Homo sapiens: one gene and its partner. The protein of the gene in region 1 binds, or shares a complex with, the protein of each later gene. Each region holds a gene or a part of one and is shown on either strand. Other genes may lie near its edges.

The links.
Region 2: NCOA6 (region 1) and KDM6A share a complex: the UniProt entries of both Homo sapiens proteins name them as parts of the MLL2/3 complex.

The regions. Positions count from the first base shown.
Region 1 is NC_000020.11:34,815,080-34,824,099, reverse strand, and holds part of NCOA6 (nuclear receptor coactivator 6), read left to right. Parts: intron 1-2,460; exon of another isoform or gene 2,461-4,798; intron 4,799-9,020. UniProt on the Homo sapiens protein: Nuclear receptor coactivator that directly binds nuclear receptors and stimulates the transcriptional activities in a hormone-dependent fashion. Coactivates expression in an agonist- and AF2-dependent manner.
Region 2 is NC_000023.11:44,868,278-44,877,644, reverse strand, and holds the start of KDM6A (lysine-specific demethylase 6A), read right to left. Parts: upstream 4,458-9,367; 5' UTR 4,094-4,457; coding exon 3,933-4,093; intron 3,722-3,932; coding exon 3,658-3,721; intron 3,470-3,657; exon of another isoform or gene 3,372-3,469; intron 1-3,371. UniProt on the Homo sapiens protein: Histone demethylase that specifically demethylates 'Lys-27' of histone H3, thereby playing a central role in histone code. Demethylates trimethylated and dimethylated but not monomethylated H3 'Lys-27'.

The DNA of each region.
Region 1 (9,020 bases):
GGGAATACAAAAAAGTATAGGCAGCCAGTTATTTGGTATTTCCTGGTTCATCTCTAATTGTGCAAAGAAGTTATCTTTGAGACCTTCTAACTTTCTAGAGTTTTAAGAGGTGCTCCGGCCAGCCACAGTGGCTCACGCCTGTAATCCCAACACTTTGGGAGGCCAAGGTGGGAGGATTTCTTGAGCCCAGGAGCTGGCAGACCCCATCTCTACAAAAGAAATAAAAAAAATTAGCCACCTGATGTGGCTTGTACTTGTAGTCCCAGCTACTCAGGAGGCTGAGGTGGGAGGATCGCTTGAGCCTGGGAGGTCAAGGCTGCAATGAGCCATGCTATGGTCATTCCATGACATTCCTGCCTGGGCGACAGAGCAAGACACTGTCTAAAGAAAAAAAAAAAAGAGAGATGCTCCTTCTCTTCTAGGTGTTTACCACAAAGGAACACAAAATCCTAAAAAAGAAAAGTGAAAAATTGTAGACACCCAGAGTCTCTATTTTATTAATTGAAGTTGGATCATGTTAGAGAAGAATTCAAAGTTCGCATGGGCTATGGGAGAGTTCTGAAGGAAATATGCAAATTAGTCATGGAAAATAGGTCCAGGGCCCCATATAATCAAAGAGAATTAGCGAACAAAAATATTATGCGGGCATATATAAAATAAAACTGTCAATACCATATGTATATACAGCAACACAATTCATTTGTTCTGGGTTTTTCTTTTCTTTTCTTTTCTTTTTTTTCTGTTTGTAGAGTTGGGGTTTCAACATGTTGCCCAGGCTGGTCTTGAAATCCTGAGCTCAAGTGATCTGCCCACCTGAGCCTCCCAAAGTGCTGGGATTACAGGCGTGAGCCACCGCGCCCAGCCTATTCTGGGTTTTTCTAATGCAGGAAGACCTGACCTTATCTGTGCCATGGACCCCTTTCAGAATAATATTTTTTAATTGTATAAAATAAAGTACATTGAATTATAAGGAACACCAATTATATTAAAATACAGTTTCCAAAATATACAAATCTAATATGCATATACTTGTTTATCAGCACGTTAAGAAATCAGATTTAGTGATGGATCCGATAATTATAATTTCAAAGACATGATGCGCATAAAGGCTACTTCAAGATTATATGCAACAATTGTAGTATGATATAAAGATATTTGAGATTTCTGTTGTTACAGAGTCACAGAACTGCTAATACTAGAATGGTATGTTACCTACACTCATATTTGAATAGAATGGTAATTTTCAGTTAAAAGTTAGTAAAAGAGATTTTTTTCTCCCTGTCCAAGTTCACAAGCCCCACTGAAGTCCTATCTATAGACTCCTGTCTATGAACCCCAGGTTAAGAAACCCTACTCCTACTGCCAGGCATGTCTTCCATTCAGCAAACGTTTACTGTGCCTCAAGGCATCTACTGCATATCAAGCATTATACTGGGCTCTGTAGCTTCAGAAGTTTTTAAGGCAGAGTCACTTCACTTTGGGTATGCAGCCCCATGAGTGAAGTAGACATGTGAACAATCATAGTTCAGGATGGTCGATGCCAAAGAAGAGTTATTAAACGCTATAAGGACACGGAGATGGGTGTGTCTGCTCAAAGAATCAGGGAAGGTGTTGCGAAGGGGTGACATTTGAGATGTGTCCTAAAAGATACAGGAATTTGCCAGTGAAATGGAGAGAAGGGCCTTTCAGGTAAAGACACGTTTTCAGGGAATGTATTAATAACTGAATGTGGCTGGAGCATAGAATGTGTGTGAAAGCATGGCCAGAGATGAGACTAGGAAGACCATGTTAGGAACCTGGTTGTGAAGGACCTTGCTAAGGAGTTTGGACTGAATCCTTAGCTGAGAGAGGCATTCAAGATCTTCGAGAAGGGGAGTATGTGGTGGAGGTTTAATTTCTAGGAGATAAATGGATGTTCTTTGGAAGGAGGGTAGACTGAAGACCAGAGAGGTAATGAGGATCTGAACTAAGGCAGAGACTGTGGGCACTGAGCAGAGTTAGAAGTAATGAGGATCTGAACTAAGGCAGAGACTGTGGGCACTGAGCAGAGTTAGAAGTAATGAGGATCTGAACTAAGGCAGAGGCTGTGGGCATTGAGTGGAGTTAGAATTTGCAGGTGTTGATTATTGACATTGTGAGTGGCTTAGGGGGAGTTTTTTAAATTTCTGGTTTGGGGTGGTGTCTGTCAAAGAGGTTTAAAAAAGTGAAAGGAAGTCTGGGCGTGTTGGCTCACGCCTGTAATCCCAGCACTTTGGGAGGCCGAGGCGGGCGGATCACGAGGTCAGGAGATCGAGACCATCCTGGCTAACATGGTGAAACCCCATCTCTACTAAAAATACAAAAAATTAGCCGGGCGTGGTGGCGGGCGCCTGTAGTCGCAGCTACTCGGGAGGCTGAGGCAGGAGAATGGTGTGAACCCGGGAGGCGGAGCTTGCAGTGAGCCGAGATCGCACCACTGCACTCCAGCCCAGGCAACAGAGCGTGACTCCGTCTCAAAAAAAAAAAAAAAAGTGAAAGGAAAATGAGGGGAGAATTCTCATTGATAATAAGGGCGAAAAGGTTTTTTTGGCAGAGTAATAGAGTTTTGGAAACCATTGCAAAGCTGTCAAGTGTGGTGTAGTTTTTGGTTAAGGAAATCAGAGGTGTCAGCAGACATAAAAGACAGGGGAAAACATGGGAAGTGTCCTACCTATAGTGTAGAAAAAGCACAACTATCTATGTCAGAGGTCGACAGACTGTGGTCCATAGGTCAAATCTGGCCCACGATCTGTTTTTGTAAATAACGTTTTATTGGAACATAGCCACACTCATTTATTTATATATTGTCCATATCTTCTTTTGTGGTACCAATAGCAGAGTTGAGTAGTCGTGACAGAGATGTGTTGTGTCAGCTCACAAAGCTGGAAATACTCTTTACAAAAACATTTGCCAACCCCTGATCTATGTGTTTGAGTGTTGGATGTTCAACCTCTAATTTGCCATCCAATGTCTATATGATGATAGAGAATGAATAAACGTCTTGGCTCTGCCCTTTGGGCTGGATTACCCATGCTCTGTGTACCTGCAGCATAACACAGACCCCTGAATATTTATATCAGTCAGTGATGGCAAGGTCTATTGTTCTGGAGTGTACTGTGTGGTAACTGTGGTAGTGCCAGCTTTACACGGATTAGATAATGCTCGGGCTTGTTTTGCCATTTTTTTTATTGGGTTGTCTTTTACAAAAGATTTATTTATATATTCTGATTATTAATCCTTTGTTGTTGGTAGATATTACAGATGTCATTTCCCAGTTTCTTGCTTATTTTAATTTTTTTTTTTTTTTTTTTGAGATGAAGTCTTGCTCTGTCGCCCAGGCTGGAGTGCAGTCGTGCCATCTCAGCTCATTGTAACCTCCGTCTCCCAGGTTCAAGTGATTCTCTTGCCTCAGCCTCCCAAGTAGCTGGGACTACAGGCATGTGCCACCACACCTGGCTGATTTTTGTGTTTTTAGTAGGGATGGGGTTTCATCATGTTGGCCAGGCTGGTCTCAAACTCCTGACCTCAAGTGATCCACCCGTCTTGGCCTCCTAAAGTGCTGGGATTACAGGTGTGAGCCACTGCGCCTGGCCTGTTGCTTATTTTAAAACATCTGTTTTAAGGTGTCATTTGTTAAAAAGTTCTGAATTTTAGTATCAACTTTATCAATCTTTTCCTTTAAGATTTGCAGTTATTCTTTGTTTTGAGGCAGGGTCTCGCTCTGTCACCGAGGCTGGAGTGCAGTGGTGCGATCTCGGCTCACTGCAGCCTCAACCTCCTGGGCTCAAGCAACCCTCCCACCTCCCATGCCAGTTGAGACCACAGGCATGCGCCACCATGCCCTGCTACTTTTTGCATTTTTTGTAGAGGCGGGGTTTCGCCATGTTGCCCAGGCTAGTCTGGAACTCCTGAGCTCAAGCAGTCCACAAAGTGCTGGGATTACAGGTGTGAGCTACTGTGCCCAGCCTGCAATTATTCTTTATATTCTGGAATACCTACTGTTGTTTTCAATGGTTAGATCTTTAATGTATCTGGAATGGATTCTTATGTGTAGTGTAAGGTCGGGTCCAGTTTCATTTTTTTTCCCTATGTATAACCAGTGATCCCAGCATCATTTATTGAATGGGGCTTGCTTTCAAATTGTGAGCTCTTTTTGGTGGAGTCTGTCTCAGGTCCTTATTAAGCACTGCTGCTTGCTGATTGTGTGACCTTGGACAAATAAAACCTCATTGCGCCTCAGTCTTTAAGGATAATAGTAATCTCATAGGGTTTTGTGAGGATTAAATGAGTCAATATACATAACGTGTAAAACAGTGCTTGGCACCTAGAACATGCTCAATAAATATTAGCTGTACTTTAGCACTACTGTTCATTTCTGATTCCTCAGCACCTGGTACAGAGCAGGGGCTCATTTTGCTCAATTAAATTGCCAAATTAATTTGGTTTTCAGGTCAATCAGAATGGTGAGAGTTGGGCTGAGTGTTGCAGGAGATGCTTCCAAGGAGCTACTTAGTTTTAGGGGCTGCCTTAGATTATCTGCTAGGATAGAACTCTTCTCACGCCATCACTTTTGCAGAGAACTTCTGTAGCAGAGGTTGCAAACTGGCAACCTGTGGTTGGATTTGACCTGTATAAGTATTTTGTTTGGTTTACACAATATTTTTAATGTCTTAAAAATGTACACAGACCTCTGAGTTTCTGACTTAACCTTGAAAAATTGGAAGATCTGTCAACAGCAAGCCCATATTCATTTATAGCGGTAACCAGCTGAAACTTTTAGGTGAGATGTGTTTCCTAGTTCTCCATAGTCTGCCTTGCTGTCTTGCTTTGCTCTTTATTTTTATGGCCCTGCAGACATTTAATTTTCTGATTCTTACTTTATTGAGGTATTGAATATTGTCTCCCCCAAACCAGTAAATGACATATTGGGATGGTGGGGGGGATGGCCAGAAATTGACAGATGAGTTTGTGGGCAAGTAAATACTAAAACCTATTTCTAAGGATGAGCCATACTTGATCATAATGAATAGAATGATAAATGAAATTAAAAGATGAGGTGAAATTCAGCTTAGCTCCTTGAATATTTAGGCATCTACTATGTATTAAGTACTGTATTAGAAATTACCACATTGGTGATAGAAAATTAGCTGGCCAGCTTTATGAAATACTGTAGAAGAACTCTTTTTACTTGTATTGTGGAGCTGTTGTCTAAGAGAGTGGTTGGACGAGAAAGGAAATATAGGTATTATTTTCTCAAACATTTGTTGAGCCCTACCATGTATTCTGGAAACTGGCTAGAACTCTGCAAGATACCAAGATGAATCTAGCCAAGGTTTCTATGCTGAGGAATGTCTGTAATGTGTTATGGAGCTGGGATACTAGAGAATGGTACCTGAAAGAGGTGGTCTGTGAACGAAGCTGCCAAGAATAGTTAGTATCTTAATACTTGGAGATGAGACAGTGCTGTATTTTCCAGGCTGAGTGAAAGCATAAACACAGAGGTGGGTATTTAGGAGATGGTAAAGAGTCCACTTTGCTTGGAGAAGAGGATTGTTATAAGGGTGTTGTTGGAATTAAGGGTGGAAATGGAGATGAACAATAGTAACAATAATAGATAAAACCTAAAATAAATAAAACTTAAAAAAATTAATAGTAGTAGTGGCTTTTCTTTCCCCCCAGTGTTCTTTGGGTAGGGTTTTTTTGTTTTGTTTTGTTTTGTTTTTAAATAGAACCAGGGTCTTACTCTGTTGCCCAGGCTGGAGTGCAGTGGCGTGATTATAACTCATTGCAGTCTTTAATTCCTGGGCTCAAGTGATCTCCTGCCTTGGTCTCCCAAATTGCTAGGATTATAGGCACAAGCCATATGCCTGGCCAATGGCTCACATTTTTTGCATGCTTACTATTTGCAAGATAATGTGCTAAGTATTTCATAAGTAGCATTTTATTTAATCCTTACAACAACCTGATGAGGTAGGCACTGGTTTTTAATCCCTTTTTACATATAAAATGAAGAAGAGAGCTAACAATTGATACAGAAAGTATTTGAGTCCAGGTAGTCTAATTTCAAAGCCTGCCTTCCTAATCTCTGCATACCATATAATCAAATCATGGAAGGCTTTGAATACCCATTTCTATTCCAAGCTGGGAAGTTTGAACTTGATTGACTAGGTAGTGGGAAGTCATCAAATGTTTTTCGCCAGTGATGTGATGAAAGCTGTACGTTAGGAAAGGAAGCCTGATTGTGAAGTGTAGGATCAGCATGGGGAGAAAGGAGAGATATGGAGCTAGTTTACTCTCTTACTTCTCACTAGATTGGGTGAGTGCTCCTTTAGGACTGGGCTGGTGTCTGTCTCTGCCTTCCCCCTTCCCTCCCTTCAGCTCCAGTGTCTGCCTATTTTGATGTCTGGTATATTCATTTATTTTTTTAAATGTGATCTTTTTCTACCTCACCTTATTCTAAAAAGGACATAAAGTAGCTGCCTAGGAGCTCAATAAACATTCTGAGTTAATTAGTAAATAACTAGAGTTACATTTAGATGTATACACAAATGAAATACTATGGCTTTGATGGAAGGAGGAATGCAGCCCTAGAGTTGGTCATATGCTTTATTTGATATACAATCTCTATAAAGCAGAAGGCCAGGACCATACCTTTACTTTGTGATGAATTGTGTATTCTATGTCAGTTATAATATTCATTATCAGTTAATAAATTAACTATATCAGTTAATATTAATGAGCACCAAATTCAGAGGGCATTCATACTTTAAACAGATATTTCAGTTTGTATTTAGCATTAACCAGCTGCAACCCCTCCCCCTCCGTCACACACACAAAGGCAACAAAAGTTCCCATTAATCAGCTCCTTTACTGATATTGAATCTGTTGAATATCAGTTCCGTAGTACCCATTTATATACATTTTCTTTTGCTTTTGCTTTTGCTTTTTTGTGTGTGTGTGTGATGGAGTCTCACTCTGTTGCCCAGGCTGGAGTGCAGTGGTGAGATCTTGGCTCATTGCAACCTCCGCCTCCTGGGTTCAAGTGATTCTCCTGTCTCAACCTCCTGAGTAGCTGGGACTACAGGCAACTGCCACCACGCCCAGCTAATTTTTTTGTAGTTTTAGTAGAGATGGGGTTTGACCATATTGGTCAGGCTGGTCTCGAACTCCTGACCTTAGGTGATCCACCTGCCTCGGCCTCCCAAAGTGCTGGGATTACAGGTGTGAGCCACTGCACCCAGCTGCTCTTTTTTGTTTGTTTGTTTGTTTGTTTGTTTTTGGAGACAGCATCTCACTCCCTTGCCCAGGCTGGAGTGCAGTGGTGCAAACTTGGCTCACTGCAACCTCTGCCTCCCAGGTTCAAGTGATTCTCCTGCCTCAGCCTCCCAAATAGCTGGCTCATACCTGTAATCCCAACACTTTAGGAGGCCAAGGTGGGTGGATCACTTGAGTTCAGGAGTTTGAGACCAGCCTGGCCAACATGGTAAAACCCCATCTCTACTAAAAGTACAAAAATTAGCCAGGCGTGCTGGCATGTGCATCTAATCGCACCTACTTGAGAGGCTGAGCCTTCCATCAATTCTTGGTGCTCCTTGGCTTGTAGCTGCATCACTCCATCTTTGCCTCTGTTGTCACATGGCGTTTTCCCTGTATGTCTCTGTGTCCAAATTTCCCTTATAAGGTCACTAGTAGGTCCCACCCTACTCCAGTAGGAGTAACTTCATCTTAATTGATTACCTCTGCAGCGACTCTGTTTCCAAATCAGGTCACATTCTGAGGTACTGAGAGTTAAGACTAACATATTTGGCAGGGATGGGATTGGGGGGCACAAGTCAACACATAACAGGTAGTGTTTGAGATAACATAGAGGCATTAAATTAAAATTTATTAAAATGGAAGGGTAAGATTGCAACAAATGGGATTAAGGAGAGAGTAACCAAAGGAATGATGGACATAGGAAAATGTAAGGAATATTTAGGTAATGAAATAGTGAGAAGTCTGATTTGCTGGTTTGTTGAGGAGTTGTGGAGAAGTGAAGCCGACGTACTTTCTTGGGGCCCTGGATGCCAGGTCTAAGACATTTGAATGTTGCTGAGTGACCAGTGTGTGGGAGCAGGATGGCACTGCGGAATTTTGAAATGGTAGATAATTGATTCAAGCTTTGAGTAACTGAGTCAAGTTTTAGAGACATTCTAATATGATCAGGTGATCATGGATAAGTAAACACCCTGTAGAAAAACAGATGGTCAATGACAACACACCCAGCCTCCCTCATTTTCCTATGCCAGTAACTTTTGCCAGCACAATAAAGAAATCTCTCTTCTGTAAAACAACAAACTTTGAGGGTTTTGTTAGCCCTCTCTTCTTGGTGAGTCATCTGTGGGCATTGAGAGATACATCAGCTTTTCAGGGTCTCCATTCAAAAGCCTCCCCATGGATATTTCAGTGTTAATAGTCATGTCACACTTCATTTGATTTCAAACCATTCTTCAAAATTACCTCTTTTCCATCCTATTCTTTACCTCTTGGTTTTTCTTTGAAACTTCTTCAGTTTTTCCATAATTTAAAAAAATATTGGAAAGAATTGAGGAAAACTGAGTATTGTTTTAAAATAACAAATAGAATTGAGGAAGACTGGGTACTGTCCAGGCTAATGATATGCTCTTTTTCTGTGTCTTTTTATTTTTAAATTATTATTTAAAAAAAAAATAGAGTCTCGCTTTGTCACCCAGGCTGGAGTGCAGTGGTGTGATCATGGCTCACTGCTGCCTCAACCTCCCAGGCTCAAGCGATCCTCTTACCTCAGTCTCCTGAGTGAACACGTGGGACTACAGGTGTTCACCACCTCACCTGGCTTTTTTTTTTTTTGGGGTAGAGAATGGGTCTTCCTATGTTGCCCAGGCCAGTCTCAACCTCCTGGGTTTAAGCGATACTCTTGCCTCCCAAAATGCTGGGATTACAGGCGTGTGCCACTGTGCTCAGCCTGTGTCTTTTTAATGGTA
Region 2 (9,367 bases), on another chromosome or scaffold:
ATAACTATACTTGGTAGTACTACTATATTTAAACTTACTACATTTATGGTATATATTCGTATATATTCTACTTTAACTCAAATCCTTACCCTACTTAAAAAAAAAAAAACCCAAAAGGTTTTCAAAAATGTACTAAAAAAGTCACAAGTTAATTTCTGTTAAAATATTTTGCTTAGTTTTCGATAACTCCACTGAAATTTTAAAAATAAGAATCTTGAATTATTACATTACCAGAAGATTAAGGGTCAGCATTCAAGAGCACTGTTCAAGATCACCCTATATCACAAGAACTCTAATTACGCAGGCTCTAGCTGTTTACAACCTTAAAGACATTACCAAAAAATAATACATTGTATTAACTACCTTATTTTTTTAATCCAAAACCCCAGGCATTGTATATCAAATGGCCATCCTACAAACAAAAAATTCTTTCAATGACTCTAATATAACTGAATCTGACAAAAACATTCGGGAGACGATGAGAAATCAGTGGTTTGAATAAACTGCACACCTGGAAAAGGAATACACATATAGATATGTACATACGTATACATACGCATATGCATATATATACATATATGTGTATACGCATATACATACGTATGTATATACATGTATATATGTATACACGTATACGTGTGTATATACGTATGCGTATACGTGTATATACGTATTCATATACGTGCGTATATACGTATACGTGTGTATATGCGTATATGTATATGTGTGTATACGTATATGTATACGTGTGTATATATGTATATGTACACGTGTGTATATATGTATACGTACATATGTTAAGGGACAAGTAAGAGACATATTTAATGCTTTCAACTTTCTAAAGCTTTTAGGTCAAGAGTTTTTTTTAACATACAAATGTGAATTTTAAAAACTTGAAAGAAAATCCAATAATATACATAGGAATAAGAATTTTTGAAAACAAGTAGTAATAGCTAAATTTCTGCCAGAAAGGAAAACGTTATACAAAGTGCAGACTAAATTGGGGCCGGGGGGTTGGGGGTGGGGGGGCATGGCAGGACAAAAATCAAAGCTAAAAAGGGAATTCTGGGAGTTATTCAATTCCATTATCTGCCCTCAGGTAAGTAGCCTAAACCTGCCCAGTAAAGGAAAGCCAACTCTTAAGACTTTCAGGGAATAAGAATTCTGAAACCAACATAGCTCAACATTCCACAAAAAATAAAAATAAAAAACAAAAAAATACTGCTTCGAGGACTGTTAAAAGAAGGATGAAACTAAATAATTCAAGACTTCCTACAGCAGGACTCCAGCTCATTCACTTCATTCAGAACCCAATTCAAACAGAGGGTGCGAAGTTATATAATGTCAGGCTTTACATTACACACCCCACTGGTATGTTCAGGCTCACAAAGATGCAACCAAGAACTATATGCGGTTGCAAGCACATATTACAGAAGGTTTTATTTTAATGTTAAGGCTGATGAATCTTGTCCTAAGCAGGTAGGACACCTCACAAGCACTGAGTCTGAAGCAGTGAAGATTTTTTTTTCTTTAGTTTAACAAACTGCTTAATCGTTCATCAAATTACCCCATATATCATGAAGGCCCCAAACATAGTGAAGCTTCACTAGTTTTTCATTTTTAAGATGTATTCAAACATCAAGTAATGCACAACTTGCCAAGAATATTTGAAAATGGTTACTTTTTTAAAATTTAAACTCGTTAGTGCATAACTGCAGGGTTTAATATTACAATCCGAAATCCAATGTTAAGCACTATTCGCAGTGAATCTATATGAATATGAGCATTCTAAGACATAAAATCAACTAGCATTTTACACATTCTCAACATAAAACATCAGATTCCATTTATTTTTTCATCACCATAACCAAAAGCAATCGATTTGGCCAAACTTTTCCACGTGAATTATCTTTGCAAGCAATTTTATTAACCCATGTTAGACCAACAATAATCCCTCCAAAACAAAATAATGCTCTTTTAATTTAAATCATGTTTAATCTTTTATAATGACAACTTTGACAGCAGTCAAATATTTTTAAATAAAATACTTTAAATACTCAAATTGGAAAAAAAAAAAAAAACTTTAAGGCAGGAGACCAACAATTACTGACGCTTAAATCTTTCCAGAGCTAGTCACTGTTCATTTTTACAGCAATAATTGTAATGAAGCCAATTAATACCTACGTAGTCAAAGTTTAATTCAAGTTTTCTGTATCGGTCAAAGGGGCCGGGCTTACTGAAAAGCATTATTTCCATTTAGTTTTCTGATTATATGCAATATAACACCTTATAATTACTTTGAAATAAAAACAAATGTGTAATTACAGATAAAAAGGAATTGATGACTCTGCGAAACCAAGCTACAGACAAAAATTCAGAACAACAAAAAAATCAACTTAAGAATAAAATGTTAGACTTATTTCAAACTTGCGTCTCAACTGCAACAATAAAGCTAGGTGTCAAATGCAAAGCTATGATTTCAGCTAGAAAAGAAAATGTCTAACGGATACAACACCCATAGCACACACTCCAACTTTCACGGTCCCAATTACGAAGAAAGTATTCAAATACCATTGCAATCAGATTTTGGTCAGGAAATATAAACTGATGCATACAGATTGAGACTCCAGCCTTTGTTCAATAGCTTACAGATGGATAACTAAATGTGCTACAGGTTGATAAGCATTTACCAGGCTTATGCATGCTGCTTCCAAGCTTATGAAAGGTATAAGAATTCTATATGCAAATAATCTTGGGTAATTTTTTTTAAACACCACTGAGCTACACACTCCGAAGGAAAGGCTTATTCACGGCTACTATTTATTTCCATGTTTACCTCTACACCCTCCCCCTAACCCCCCCCTTCACTTTCTCCTCCCACCCTGTCCCGCCATCTTGGGCCGATAGGAGCAGCCATTACTTAACTAAATGACAGTGCCAACAACTTTCCACACAAATAAAAAAAGACTACACCCCGAATCCTCCCCAGCCTCCCCTGTCAGACACACAGGAAATGAGGCTCCAGGAAGAGAACACGTTTACAAATAACTACGGTATTTCTATGCCAAAAAGACCCAAAAAGTAAACAAGTCACCTAACTTCAGGTAACACACACTGCAATCGAGATACATGTCAACAGCCCAATGCAAACTCTTCACCGACCTAAACTCCGTGAAACTTCCCCCTTCTGGGAGCGGGGACACAAGAAAGCCTAAAACATTTGGTTAGCAGTAGGCATCACGAACAGCCTGCTTGAAGGAAAAGAATTTTTTTAAACCCGTAGAGGCAAGTTAAGTCCGAAATTTGGGAAAATCTGAACACACTCACGATCCCTTGACCCTAAACAGGCACCTCGAAGATCATCGGCCTACCCTCAAAAAGCTGTAAAATAGCAGGCAGTTGTGTCGACCCAGTTGAGCCCGGCCCCAAAGCGATCCCGTCTCTGTTCCTCCAGCTACAAGAGGAAAAGAGCGATTTCGCAAGGGAGCAAGCAGGGTACCCGGGGGTGGGGGGAGAGCAGAGGCAGGAAATAGTTTCCGGAAGCCCCTCGACCATCGTCCGTGGCCACAATGAGCACAGACCCGGCCGCGGGGCCCGGGGCGAGCGCGGCGCCGGCCAGGGAGACGGTGTCCGCGCTCCGACTCGCAGCTGCCTTACCTTGCCCAGTAGGGCCTTCGTCCTGGCGCCATCTTCATGAAATCTCACGAACCCAAAGAGGCGGCTGTGGAGACAGACACAGTTTACTCGTTAACGCTCAGGGAACGCCACCGACCCGTCCCTGCCCGAGCCCGAGGCCCCAGCGGAGGCGGCGCGAAGAGCGCCAAACCGAGGTGCCCGCCCCGCCGCCGCCAGAGACAAGCCGCGCTCGGTCCTCCCGGGAGAGCGGCTACTGCCCGTCCGGAGCCGACCGGGCGAGTGACGGCGGCCCGTACCTGTCCAGTCCGCCGAGCGCCTCCCTCTCCTCGGCTGTCAGGCTGGGGGACGCCTCCTCGCTCTCGCCGCTCGCTTTTCCCGCCGCCATTTTCTTTTCCTCATCACCGAAAGCGGCGGCGGCAGCGGCGGCGGTAGCGAGCGACACTCCGCAGGATTTCATGGAAACGCAGCGAATTCACAACTCCAACGCCGACACCCCCCCTCGGACCGGGGCCCGCAGTGACGCCCCCAATCTGCGCGCGGGACCAGCACACCAACTTTATCGCCGCCTCCTCCTCCGCCGCGGGCGGCGGCGACGAAAAATCCCAACGCGGCGGCGGTGAAGGCGGCGGCGGCGGCGGCAGGGGCTGCGGAGCCCCCGGGTCGGCAGCGGCGGCTTTCGGCTGTAGGGTCACATCGCGGGGTTGGGCAGGGGGCAGCCACAGGCGGGGACGGCGGGAACGGCCGGAGCGCGCGGGGCTGGGGAGCACTGAGGGGATTCGTTGGAGACACAAACTTCCCCGGCACCAGCACAAAGTTGTTGTAATTGTGTCACACAGCGAACCCCACGCCGCCGCCGTGACCCCCCCTCCCCGCCCGGCTGGCGCCACCAATCGGCGCGGCCCGCACGCCTCACGTGACCTTTGTTGACTCACGTCAGCCGTGGCTCCACTTAACTTGCTAGCTGCCCGAGCCCCGCCCACCGAGGCCGCCACCGAGATGGGAGCGGGACGCAGGCCAATTCTAGCCGGTGGTTGGCTGCTGGGCGCGTCTGTCGGGGGAAGGGTTGTCACCGAGAGGGAGCTTCCTGTTAGGTTGTGCTGGTTAAATACACTGGGGCAGAGAATGGAGGGTCCGGGCCGTGTCACCTCGGGAACCGCGGCGGGCTCTGGAGGGGGAGGGGAGTGGTGGGGAAGGGCGAGGTCCGGCACCGCCCGCGGCGGGCGCGAGCGGCGGGCGAAGACGCCAAGGACGGCATTTGCCTGCCCGCGAGCTCTGGGATGTGCCCAGACCGCGGCTCCGGCCGTCCCGCGCGCGCTCCAGGGGTCCCGGGACCCCACAGGGCCTGGTACAGGTCGCGTAGCCGGGAGGCGGCGCACGGCCCTCGACCTCTGCCCTCCGAAGAAGGCTCAGACTTTTGGCACTGCTGGAAATAATGGCCTCCGCGAGGAGGGCGCTCGGGGAGCGGCTGCCGGTCCCGTGCCCCGCGGTCCGGGTGCCGCCCTAGGCCAGACCTGCGCTGGCAGCCCCGATCACCTCACCCGCGCCGAAAGTGAAGGGGGAAGGGCTCCCCTGACCCCCGCCCATACGCCCCAGGCCGGAGGGAATGAAGAGTCGCCCGCGGGGCCTGGCTTGCCGACCATGGCTCCCCACCGCCAAAGGTCTGTCTGTTGGCGGCACTTTGGGGCCAGATTTTCGTGCTGTGTTTACCCTGTGTCTTATCAGTAGTTCATTACAGTCTTACAAGAAAAAGCAATGAGAAATTGTGAAGCGGGATCTGCAGAATGTTGGGTTCTATTGCCATGATTTCAGTGGAGCCTTCTTACAAAAGTAGGGGCTGCTTGTGGACAGACCTGAGAGAAGACATAATTAAATCATCACAGCTGGTGGCCCAAGAAATCCTTTCTATCCCCCAAAACCTGCAGGTTTGTAACCCCTAGACAACAGTAACATTTTGTTGTTCTGTCTCTCAGGTGCAGGGGAAAGGCTTTAGTCTGACTTTTAATCTTTACTATAGGTGAAAAAAAAATAGGCCTTTCGACTACTCTTCTCAAAAGGCAAATTTATTTACTAAGCTGTATGTCTTATAACAGGGATAGGAAAAAATTGATAGACATATAAGGACAAGATTCTGTTTATAAACGGAGTTTTTTATATTTTCAATAGGTTTTCCACCTGTAACCAATAAAAATTATATATTTAAACTTGGATTTCAAAATATGACGAAGACAATTCAGTGCTGACCCAGTAATTCCTACCAGTATTCAGCGGGAAGCTATGGGAATCCCAACTGATTTTGCACACAGTTTTAAATTGTTCCCCTGAGACTAGTAACTAGACGAACAAACTGTAGTTTTGTATAGATTATAGTTCATGTTTAATTACTTCCTCTGAAACACCTTTCCCTTTATGATACTCCATTTTGCTTGAATGAGTGTGTACAAAGGGCCAAATCTTTTCTACGGCTAAATTAATACATTGTTAACTTTGTCACAAATGGTGACATTTAAAGCCAAGGAAATTTTGACCCCAGTAACTCGCTCGCACACTCTCTCATACACACACACACACACACACACATACACACACACTTGCACAAGCACAGATAGACATTTTGCTGGTATTTGACTATCTCCCTGAAGTTAGCAGTTCCTGACTCAGGTCCTTTTCAAGGATTATAAGGCTACTCAATCCCGGCCGGGCTCTGTGGCTCACGCCTGCAAAGGGAGGCCGAGGCGGGCGGATCACGAGGTCAGGAGTTGGAGAGCAGCCTGGCCAATGTGGTGAAACCCCACCTCTACTAAAAATACAAAAAACAAAATTAGTCGAGCATGTGGCGCTCGCCTGTAGTCCCAGCTACTCGGGAGACTGAGGCAGAAGAATCGCTTGAACCCGGGAGGTGGAGGTTGCAGTGAGCCATGATTGCACCTCTGCACTCCAACCTGGGGACAGAGTGAGGCTCTGTCTCAAAAAAAAAAAAAAAAAAAAAGGCAGCCAGGCGCTTTGGCTCACGCCTGTAATCCCAGCACTTTGGGAGGCCGAGGCAGGTGGATCACGAGGTCGGGAGATGGAGACCACGGTGAAACCCCGTCTCTACTAAAAATACAAAAAATTAGCCGGGCGTGGTAGTGGGCGCCTGTAGTCCCAGCTACTCGGGAGGCTGAGGCAGGAGAATGGCGCGGAGCTTGCAGTGAGCCGAGATCGCGCCACTGCACTCCAGCCTGGGTGACAGAGCGAGACTCCGTCTCAGAAAAAAAAGGCTACCCACTCTCCACACCTCAACACTTTTCTTCCCGCTATTACTATGTAATAGCAGAACAGCAAGGAGTGGATGCAATGGGTGGGAGTTGGAGTGAGGCAGACCTGGATTCGAATCCTTGCTCTACACAGGCTGTGCGACCTTGAGAACATTACCTATCCTCTAGGCCAGTGCTCTATGTCTATTACAACTACAAGGATCTATCATCAAGCATGGGACAAATTTCATATGGTAACATAAGTCCTTACATCATACACATGTTACATAGTGTGTTATCTGTCAAATGTATGTAAAATAGATATAGAGCCTATAAGGTTTACATATTTCACTGGAGAGAGAAATAGGGACATACAATAAATGATTTTATAATAAATTTCCATGAAAAGTGAATCTGAAAACCCCACCGGAAGGCAGAGTAGTGCAGCCAAAGGAGCATGAATTGTGGAATCATACAGCTCTAGGTTCAGATCCTACCTTTACCACTTGATAGCTAGGCAGACTTCAACAAGTTAGTCTAATTTGAGCTTCAGTTCTCTCATCTGTGAAAAAGAGAAAATACAGCCACTTTATAACATTATTTTAGATGCCATAAGGTAGGTAAAGTGCCAGACACATAGATTCAAAAATCTCAATAAAATAGGAAGGCTGGAATTTCCAAAATTTTTTCTTGCTTTCACAATCTGGGTTCTAAATTTATTATTACTCTACCCATCACTTCCTCCTTCTCCCTCCACAACCTCACTATAAGCCCAACACATAAGCAGTCCTAAGTACTTTATACTTGAGGCATATAACCCCAGTATTGCTACATCTCTCATTTATTCTAAACTTCGGCCTTATAAGCCGGGTGCGGTGGCTCACGCCTGTAATATCAGCACTTTGGGAGGCTGAGGTGGGCAGATCACCTGAGGTCAGTAGCTCCAGACCAGCCTGGCCAACATGGTGAAACCCTATCTCTACTAAAAAAATGCAAAACTTAGCCAAGCATGGTGGCACATGCCTGTAATCCCAGCTACTTGGGAGGCTCACGCAGGAGAATCGCTTGAACCTGGGAAGCAGAGGTTGCAGTGAGCCAAGATCATGCCATTGTACTCCAGCCTCGGCAACAGAGCAAGACTCCATCTCAGAAAAAAAAAGAAAATAGAACATTCATCCTTATATCACTTAGTACTGATTCTTTTTCATAATTCTAAATACACCAGGAGCTGGGGAAAGTTTAATCTGAATTTAGCAAATTAATACGACTAATATATGTATAGATAAATCAATATTATAAAATTATATAAAATCTAGCTAAGTCAGATTACAGACTAAGTACATAATTTGTAGCAATATTATGTTAATATTTATGTAAGTACCATCAACTAATTAGAGAAGGAACCCATTTAAGTATAGGAAAATAATGTGACTTTCTTTTAAACAACGAAATATTTAACCTGAAGCACTTAGGAATATTTAGTGTGTTTATAATGTTAGTGCCATATAACCTTTACAGATAATAAAAAGTCACATAACAGAGTCATAGTTTATCTAGTCTTATCAATAGAACTATACGTAAATGTTACGATCAAACATAGGTTCAAAAAAATTTACCAGTTCTTCCCATACTTACCACTGTCATAGAGACTATCCAGCTGATGCCAGAACACAAAAATGACAGAAATAGATATATGGTTAGGTTTGAGCAGAGACAGGGAGCCAAGGATAAATGGACTTTCAGTTGTTATGAAAACTTCAGTTGTGAGAATAGAGTTAGGACTGCTAGAAGATGCCTGGACTCCTACCTTCACCAGGCTGTAATGAGGCACCTCACATCCCACCCCCGCCAACACACACACACAACTGCACTAGGCAGCCTGGACTTCCACCCAGCAGTTGTGAGGGGTCAGTACCCATCCCTGCTGAATTAATGTCAGAGTCGTCAAAACTTTCATCACTGCCCAGTGGTATACTACCACCCCCCCCATTGTATCAGTGGAGGGGGAGCAATGTAGGGAACAATAATGAGGGACTCCTATACTGCCCAGCTAGGGTGAATGGAGGCCTCAATCTAGGCCTGGTAGGGAGCGAGAACTCCCATCCCCACAAAGCAGTAACAAGGAGACATTGCACTCATTGTCAACCAAGATTGAGGGGGAAAGCTGGACTTCCACCCACACCTGGCAGTAACAAGAGAATGCCCCCTTTGCCCCCACTAGAGCAATGTCAGAGGAGGCCTGCTAAAATACAAGATTTAAATAAGATCTAGAGTCTTGGCCGGGCGCAGTGGCTCATGCCTGTAATCCCAGCACTTTGGGAGGCGAAGGCGGGTGGATCAGCTGAGGTCAGGAGGTGGAGTCCAGCCTGACCAACATGACAAAACCTCATCTCTACTGAATACAAAAAAAATTAGCTGGGCATGGTGGCACATGCCTATAATCCCAGCTACTTGGGAGGCTGAGGCAGGAGAATTGCTTGAACCCCGGAGGCGGAGGT